3 separate regions of the Homo sapiens genome follow, and regions 1 and 3 are each linked to region 2. Evidence: fine-mapped expression QTL. A gene starts in region 2. Each other region holds a variant in brackets. All regions are shown on one strand. Distances are between the middles of the regions.

Region 1 (2,765 bases), 28 kb before region 2:
AGCTGAGATCGCACCACTGCACTCCAGCCTGGGTGACAGAGCGAGACTCTGTCTCCAAAAAAAATAAAAAAATAAAATAAAACAAGTTGTACTTGCATGTAGAAAAAGCATTTGACAATTTCAACATCAGTTGAAGACAAAATATCCAAGAAACTAGGATTAAAAGGGAACTTCCAGTTGGGTATGGTGATGGCTCATAATCTCAGCACTTTGGGAGGCTGAGGTGGGCGGATTGCTTGAGCCCAGGAGTTTGAGACCAGCCTGGCCAACATGGCAAAACCCTGTCTCTACTAAAAATACAAAAATTAGCCAGGTATGGTGGCCCATGCCTGTAATCCCAGCTACTTGGGAGGCTGAGGCACGAGAATCGCTTGAACCTGGGAGGTGGAGGTTGCAGTGAGCCAAGGTCACACCACTGCACCCCAGCCTGGGTGACAGAGTGAGACTGTCTCAAAAAAAAAAAAAAGAAAAGAAAAAAAGAAAAAAAAAATGTTGGGGGGACCTTCCTCAACATGATACAGGACCATCATCGTATATGGAAAGCCAGAGCTGACATAATATGCAATGGTGAAAGACTGAAAGCTTTCTCTCTAAGACTAGGAAGAAGACCAGGATGCCCACTTTTGCCAGTTCGGTTAAGCATAGTTCTAGCCACAGCAATTAAGCAAGAAATAGAAATAAAAGGCATCCAAATTGGGAAGAAAGAAGTAAAACTATATTTGCAGATGACATGATATTATATATAGAAAACCCTAAGGAATCCACAAAAAATTGTTAGAGCTAATTAATTCAACAAAGTTGCAGGATACAAGATCCACACTTAAAAATGAGTTGTATTTCTATACACAAACAATGAATGATTCAAAATAAAACTAAGAAACAATTCTACTTACAATACCATTAAAAAGTATAAAATACATAGGAATGAATTTAACCAAAAAGTTGCAAAGCTGGTAAATGAAAACTAAAAAACATCACTGAAAGAAATTTTAAAAGAACTAAATAAATGAAAAGACATGCC[A/G]TATTCATACATTGAAAGACAACATTATATTATTAAGGTATCATTACTTCTCAAAGCAATCTATAGATTTAATGCAATCCATATCAAAATCACAACAGCCTTTTTTTTTCAGAAATAGAAAACTCAGTCCTAAAATTTATATGGAATCTCAAGAACCTGGAATAGCCAAAACAATTTTGAGAAAAGAATAAAGTTGAATGACTCATAATTCACAGGATCAAAACTGACTGCAAAGCTACAGTAATCAAAAAAGTGTGGTTCTGGCATCAGGATACACATATACACCAATGGAACAGAATTGAGAGTTCATAAATAAATTCATATATCAATGGTCAATTGATTTTTGAACAGTGCCAAGACCATTCTATGGGAAAAGGAACACTCTCTTCAACAAATTGTTCTGGAACATCCGCATGTAAAAGAAAGATGTTGAATCCTTATCTCATACCTAATGCAAACATTAACTCAAAATCTATCAAAGACTGAAAGTTAAGAGCTAAAAATATAAAACTCTTAGGAGACAACATAGAGGAAACTCTTCAGAGCAGTAGCTTGTGCACTGGTTTCTTAACTATGACACCGAAGGCACAAGCAACAAAAGAAAACAATGGATAAATTGGGCTTGTCAAAATTTGAAACTTGTGCATCAAAGGACAAGTTGACAAGTTGTGCACTACTAAGAAAGTGAAGACAACCCACAGAATGGGAGAAAATATTTGCAAATTATATATTTGATAAGAGTCTAGTATCCAACATATGTGAAGAACTTTTTCAACTCAGCAATTTAAATTTCCCAATTTTTAAAAGGGCAAAGGATCTGAAAAGATATTTCTCTAAAGAAGATATACAAATGGCCAACAAACACCTAAAAAGATGCTAAGTGATATGAGTCATTAGGAAAATGTAATCAAAACCATAATGAGATATTATTTTATACCCACCAGGATGGCTATAAGAAAAATGAAAAATATAAATAACAAGTGTTAGCAAGGAGGCAAAAAACTTGCAGCTCTCATGAAATGTAATAAATAATGGTGCAGCTGCTGTGCAAAGCTGGCAGTTTCTTAATAAGCTAATCGTAGAATTACGACCAGCAATTCCACTTACTTGTATTTCAGGATTCAAGGTGACACTTTGTCACCGACTTTTGTTGTCCATGGCTTTTCAGTTTGGTTGCTCTGTTTTCACATGGGCACTCTGGAAGATCCAAACATTATTCTGGTATCGCTGTTACCATCTTCCTAGGCCTCCTGTTGGAGAGCTTTGTGAAATACCCCTTTTTGATATGCATTTCAAATGTTTCCCCAGTTTACATTTGTCTTTTGTCATTTAAGCAGCTTGGATGGGGGACTTGGATATCAGGAGATGGGGGAATTTGGGGACCATGGGTGGCTTCTCACATTGCGTCCTGTGTGAGCTGGCAGCAGCACTTCCTAATCACCCAGGGAGTCCGTCTTATCCCCCTCTTCACAGCCCTGAGGCTCCATAAAGTGATTAGACTTTCTCAGGTTGTTATTAGTATTTTTCTCCTGGGCTTCCTCAATAGTACAATTCAGTTCACCTATTGCTCAGAAAATATTGCTATGGTAACCTATTCTGGCAAGTAAAGCAATTACCTAGAGTTGAAGAAAAAAAATTTGGACTAAAAACCTGAGTACGCAACCATTTATTACCCAAAGGCACTTGAAAGAATTAAGGAAAACAAACAAAGGCAGGTACATTGCTCTGTCCATGACAGATTAGA
Region 2 (2,765 bases):
GCCATACATACACTTACCATTGTGTTACAATTCTCTGAGTATAGTACAGTAACATGCTGTACAGGATGACAGCTTACGAGCAACAGGCTATATCATGTAGCCTGGGTGTGTAGTAGATTTAGGTTTGTGTAACTAGATAAAGTTCGCAAAACGACAAAAGCCCCTAATGACACATTTCTCACAATGTATCCCCCCTCCTGTTATGCGATGCATGACTGTACCTGAGAATGTCCTTACCAAAGGTTCCCTGTTTGTTTACTGAAAAAGATAAAACACCATCTTTTGTTCAAATTTACTTACATATGCGCTGAAAAGTAGTAATGCTGTAGTATTATTCTATAGGAATTAGAAATACAAGAGTATTTCAAAACATATTCCTAAAATTCACAAACCTATTGCCTCCTGCAGAATTTTTTTTCAATTAATGTCTGTTGAAAACCAACTGGGGCAAGGCACTGTGCCTCCAAACTTTCCCTCGGGGAGTTTGTATCTTAACCTGGACAACAGGTTAACACAATTACTTCAAGATCTGTGGCCCCACTGTCAGGACACTGGGACTGCAAATGAGGTAGGTAAGAAAGGTGACATTCAGATAAAATCCTTTTCATTTAGGTCACTGTGCGGGACACAAATACGTAGAAGCTCTGGTGAGAAAGTGCTACGAGAACGTGTGGAAGTGGGTAGAGGAAGGCAATAGTATCAAAGAAGCTCTGTGGAAACAGCCAGACGGGCTTTTGGGGAAAGAAATACGGGAATTAAATAGATGTGAAAAGTGGGTGGAAATGAGACGTTTCATGCAGCATAACCGGAAATGAGGGATGAGGTGAGGTGCGACTTGCAGGTGGTGAGGGAACCAAAAGCTAAGGTGGAAATGCAAAAGGCAGGGTTAGTCGTAAGCCTAGAAGTGAACGGGGAGTCCTCCCGCTCTAACGTTGTAAGAAGACACTGATTGCTCAGAAAGGTCAGGAGCAGCGCTGGAGCCACGCGACGAGTGGGCAGCAGCGCGGGTCCCGAGTGGAAGCTGCCTTTTCACTCTCCCCAATCACACACGCTGCAGGGGAAGCTGCCTCCGTCACACAGAGCAGCTGGGCCCCCGGCCGCCCGAACGCGCCAGGGCTCGCGCGTGGGTCTTCTGAGCCACCGCGAGTCAACGCATCTCACCCTGAAACTTTAGGTTCCGCTGCCGCAATTTGAGGTTCCGCTTCTCGATCTTCTTACGCAGGAGTTTCATCGGCAGGTGTGACATTCTGCCCAACAAGTGCCTAGAATAAGGCGCCACACAGTACAGCTACTCAGTTCTCAGGCTGACGTTACTTCCCTTCCGGCCGCACGTGCGCAGCTCGGCCAACAGGAAACGCGTCACAGGAACGCTGGCACCCGGCGGAACGAAAATGCTCCAGAGCGGAAATGCTTCCAGACGCGCGCACCGTGATATCTTTGGCGACCAAAATCTTTGCAGCGCCCCCTGGAGAAGTGGAAGCGAGACGCTGCACTGGCTTCACACTGTGCTAAAGCTAACTTGAGCTCCCCCTAGAGGAAGACTGAAGAAAGAACGTGGAGGGGAAGGAGGCCTTAGGGAGTCCGCATTTTTATGTTCCTATCCTCTGTGGGTGCAGAACTAGAGTTGGCCCTCCCTGTACCTGAATTCCCTGTCTGTGGATTCAACCAACTCCCCCATTGAAAACATTAAAAAAAAAACAATTAAAAATAATACAGTGTGATAACTACTTTCATAGCATTTAGGTTGTATAAGGTATTATAAGTCATTTAGAAATGATTTAAAGTATACAGGATGTTGTGTGTAAAATAAATGCAAATATTACACTATTGTATATAAGGGTTTTGAGTATCCTAAGATATTGGTACCCATAGAGGGTCCTGGACTCAATCCCTTGTGGATACTGAGGGACAACTGTATTTGGGAAACTGAATAGAACTAAATTATATATATGCATTTCCAAACTTGTTTGGCCACTCTCCTCAGAAATACAATTTCTGTGTCACTTGGTACACATACACACATAAATATAACATTTCTCAAAATAATATTCTTGCTTTTCACTCTTTTTCCTTCAATTCCATTCATTCCATCCTAAATTATTCTTTTTAGCTTACTAAAAATACTGATTCCTATGAATTTAAATTAACTTTACTACATTAATAATAGGTTGACTGCAGTTTGAAAAAGAGGTTTATATATTCCTTAAGTATACCCAAGGACCCTTCAGCAGTCCAGGACAGAAATTGCAATGTGGCTAGCTAATAGTCATCTCTTTTTTGGGATGGGGAGGAAGACAGGGGTATGCATATAGTATTTAATTTTTAAAAAAATTGTTATCAACATTAAAATACTTGGAGATTTCCATAAAAATTCATATTTGTCTTTAAAAATTGGCCCAATGCCCTCAAATTCCCCTTAACAGTAATCAATTTGAGCTGAACAACTGGAAGAGTCCATGAAACCTGGATTAATTTGTTTACTTGGAGGGGCAGAACATGAGACCCTGGAGATTAGACCTGATCATAGTGAGGAACAGAGAGGGAGAAAACTTGGGAGGGAGTTTAAACAGAATGTGAAGGAATTGACTTCGAAATCACATTGGATTGGACTGGAAAACTAAGACAAACAAATAATAATGTGCTTAGATTAATTTGTTAATGATCAGGCAGGCTGAAGAATGATTCAGAAATGTAAGAGCGCACACACACACGCAAACATTTATCTCAGTGTAAATATATATGCCAGTTTAAATTTATGCATATAT
Region 3 (2,765 bases), 36 kb before region 2:
CTAAATGTTTTCACTAACTCCTCCTGAGTCAGGGATTCTCAACCTAAGCACTATGGAGATTTTGGGCTGAATAATTCTTTGTTGGGGGTGGGGTGGGTGCTATCAAGTATGTGGTAGGATGTTTAGCAGCTTCTTTGTTCTTTACTCCCTGGATGCCAGTAGCCACCACCGACCCCACCAGTTATCTCCTGGGAGCAGAATCAACCCAGTTGAGAACCATTGATCTAGATAATTCAGATGTCTCTAGCAGGCATTTCCTCTCTTAAACATCCCGTTCAACCAGGAAGTGTTAGTCCTGCCAGGTTTCCCTCCTGTGGTTTCCCAGAGAAAGGTCTGCAGCACTGGCACAGCCCTTGCCTTAGTGCTCTATGTGATAATCAATGTTTTTCACAAGGAATCAGAGAAAACCGCCAGACACTGGATATGGCTGTTCCAAATGACCAATATTGGAAGGGTTAAACATCTCAACACAAAGGTCCTTGAGGATTTCTCTCCACCTTCAAGTTTGAGACTCAACTCCTCAGACCTCACATTCCAGCCCATCTCCAGGGTATCTGGTACCCAGAATGTCTACTCCCATCAGAAACAAAGGATCCTTCTAAGGCCTTGCCTTAGTCCTTCTCCTCACCTAAACAGTGCAAAACCCCCAAAAGAGGGAACTTTCCTGAGGTCAGAGTTATTAAATCTGCCAGGATACCTGGTGTGAAGTTTAAAAAAGAGAGCATGTCATGAAGACATGCCACCTCATCCTTCCTGCTCCCTTCATAGCTTCATTCTGCTCCTAACCACACAGACGGGTGAGTTCCTGAACAAGAAAGTCGGTGTGCACACACCAACACACATGCACACACACACACCCCTCTGGGAAACAAGCAAAATTTTTTTAGGGATAGTCTAAATCCACATTTAGAGAAATTTTTTTCCCCTAAAGGGAATGTGATGAACAGAGAAGCCTGCCACATATAGGGAAATGCTCTTTTATGGGGCCAAGCAGCCCTGTTTCCCTCCTTGTTGCTCCTAAACCTCTCTGTTCCAGAAGGGATTGCTGCTTTACTTTGGCATTACCAAAAGGCTTAGACAAAGAAATTGCTTGACATCACAGGTGAAATTCAGACCTCTGCCTCCAGAGAAACTGAAAAAGTGCCTGCAACTTTAGCCATCTTTCTTCCTCACCCACTGCTTGTCTCCACCA[G/A]GATTTTAGAAAATCATATGGAGAAAATAAAGTTATATACACAAAAAATCCTGCACATCGTTGTTTGTAGCATATTTATTCATAATTGCGTACTTGCCAAAACTGGGAAGCAACCAAGAATAAAGCCAAAATCATTTGATCTAGTCCCAGTCAGGTACCCCATTATATCTGCAGTTGGAAATAAATGGATGTGCATCCTCTATACATTAATATATGCCATAATGTTATCTGCCTTCATAAAACTGTTTTAACCTCTGATTATGTTTTACACTGAAATACAATAATTAAAGGCACACTCCTTTCCTATGTTATAAACTACTATTGTTGGTACTCAACCAAAATGAAGAGTTTTGCTCTATGTGTGGAAACGGATCTGGGCTTGATGTTGGTCCCAGCCTCCTCAGTGCTGCGGATTTGCTTTAGAATAAAAGTGGGTGGAAATCATTTCTCCAGATAAGCAATGGGCTTATCTCCAGCCCACTATCAAAGCAGTGTTAAGGATCAGTTGGAGACAGGGAAAAGAAAACAGGTTCAAGGAAACATCGAGGCATAATTGGCATTTGTTTTCCTACTGTGTGTGGGTGTTGAAGCTAATTTGTTTGCAGGAACGTGGGGAAAGATAGTGCCTTAGAGTAGTTGTTCCTCCTACTACTCTTGGAGTTTTAATTAGCAGATGGGCTCCTTCCCCCACCACCTGCCAGCTGCTTTCTTTTCACATGACCAAAGGTAGTTTTTAAAAATTTCCATGCATTCAAACCTCAGCTCTTAAAAATGCCCTTTTTCTCATGAAAAGATCTCTAATGAAGACTCTGGGTCAAGAATGAAAAGTTTCCCAGAGTCAACAATGATAATAAAGACCACCCAATAACTGCAAGAATCCTGTACAAACAGGTCACATCCCATGGGCGGGGACTCCGCTGGGTTTGAAATTCTCACTGGCTCATCTTTCCACCTGTTGTGCTCTCCTCCCTCCCTCATCAGGAGGGGTGAGGGGATAGAAGCAGGATCAGGTGGGGAGGGAGAGGGAGCACGTGGAGGAGAGTGTGTGTCTCAGCTGATCTCTTCTGCATTTTAAGCTGCTCGTAGGAAGGCGAAATTGGAAAGGAGGGCTGTAATGAGGTCGAGAATTACCCACATTCCCCCTGCAGGCTAATTTACTCCCCTACTCAGAGCTGCGTGAAGTTCAGGGTAGCCAGGACCAGGGGATTTAGCCCCAGAGCCTGTAACTGAACCATCAGCCCTGGAATAACCAGTAGTTGCAATTTCTAACTAACTTCGGAGAAGCAAAATAAAAAAGTGCTTAAAAACCAAAATGATTAAAAGAACCCCAAGGCTCGTAATTTGGAAATGTCAATTAGGAAACACATCATTGAGAAAAGTATAGATTAGAAAAATAAATCAAGACAAGATGATACTTATAAGTTTAATGTCTAGATTAATAGGATGACAATAGAGGGCCATAAAGAAATATCTTACCCATGCATTGCTTGTCAGTGAATGATAGCTATAAGGTTTTAGAGAAAAGCATGAAATATTTTGAAAAATGCATGAGTTTAAGTATAGATTCTAAGAA

The links.
Region 1: its variant is fine-mapped to the expression of DDX18 in blood mononuclear cells (TOPMed, PIP above 0.99). The same link has a PIP of 0.9 or more in hypothalamus.
Region 3: its variant is fine-mapped to the expression of DDX18 in tibial artery (GTEx, PIP 0.93).

What each region holds. Positions count from the first base shown.
Region 1 is chr2:117,841,565-117,844,329 of GRCh38, reverse strand. It overlaps LOC107985939 (a long non-coding RNA gene), which reads right to left. Exons shown (of 7, transcript NR_158150.1): 7 at 2,674-2,765. Among named protein-coding and RNA genes, the nearest start is that of DDX18, 28 kb to the right of the region's middle. The variant A/G (reference allele first, on the strand shown) is at 1,022.
Region 2 is chr2:117,813,259-117,816,023 of GRCh38, reverse strand. It overlaps DDX18 (DEAD-box helicase 18), which reads right to left and starts at 1,333. Exons shown (of 14, transcript NM_006773.4): 1 at 1,162-1,333. The coding sequence starts at 1,246. RefSeq lists enhancers at 476-1,011, 1,087-1,136, 1,157-1,206, 1,337-1,466, 1,012-1,549 and 1 more.
Region 3 is chr2:117,849,621-117,852,385 of GRCh38, reverse strand. No RefSeq gene overlaps it. Among named protein-coding and RNA genes, the nearest start is that of DDX18, 36 kb to the right of the region's middle. The variant G/A (reference allele first, on the strand shown) is at 1,193.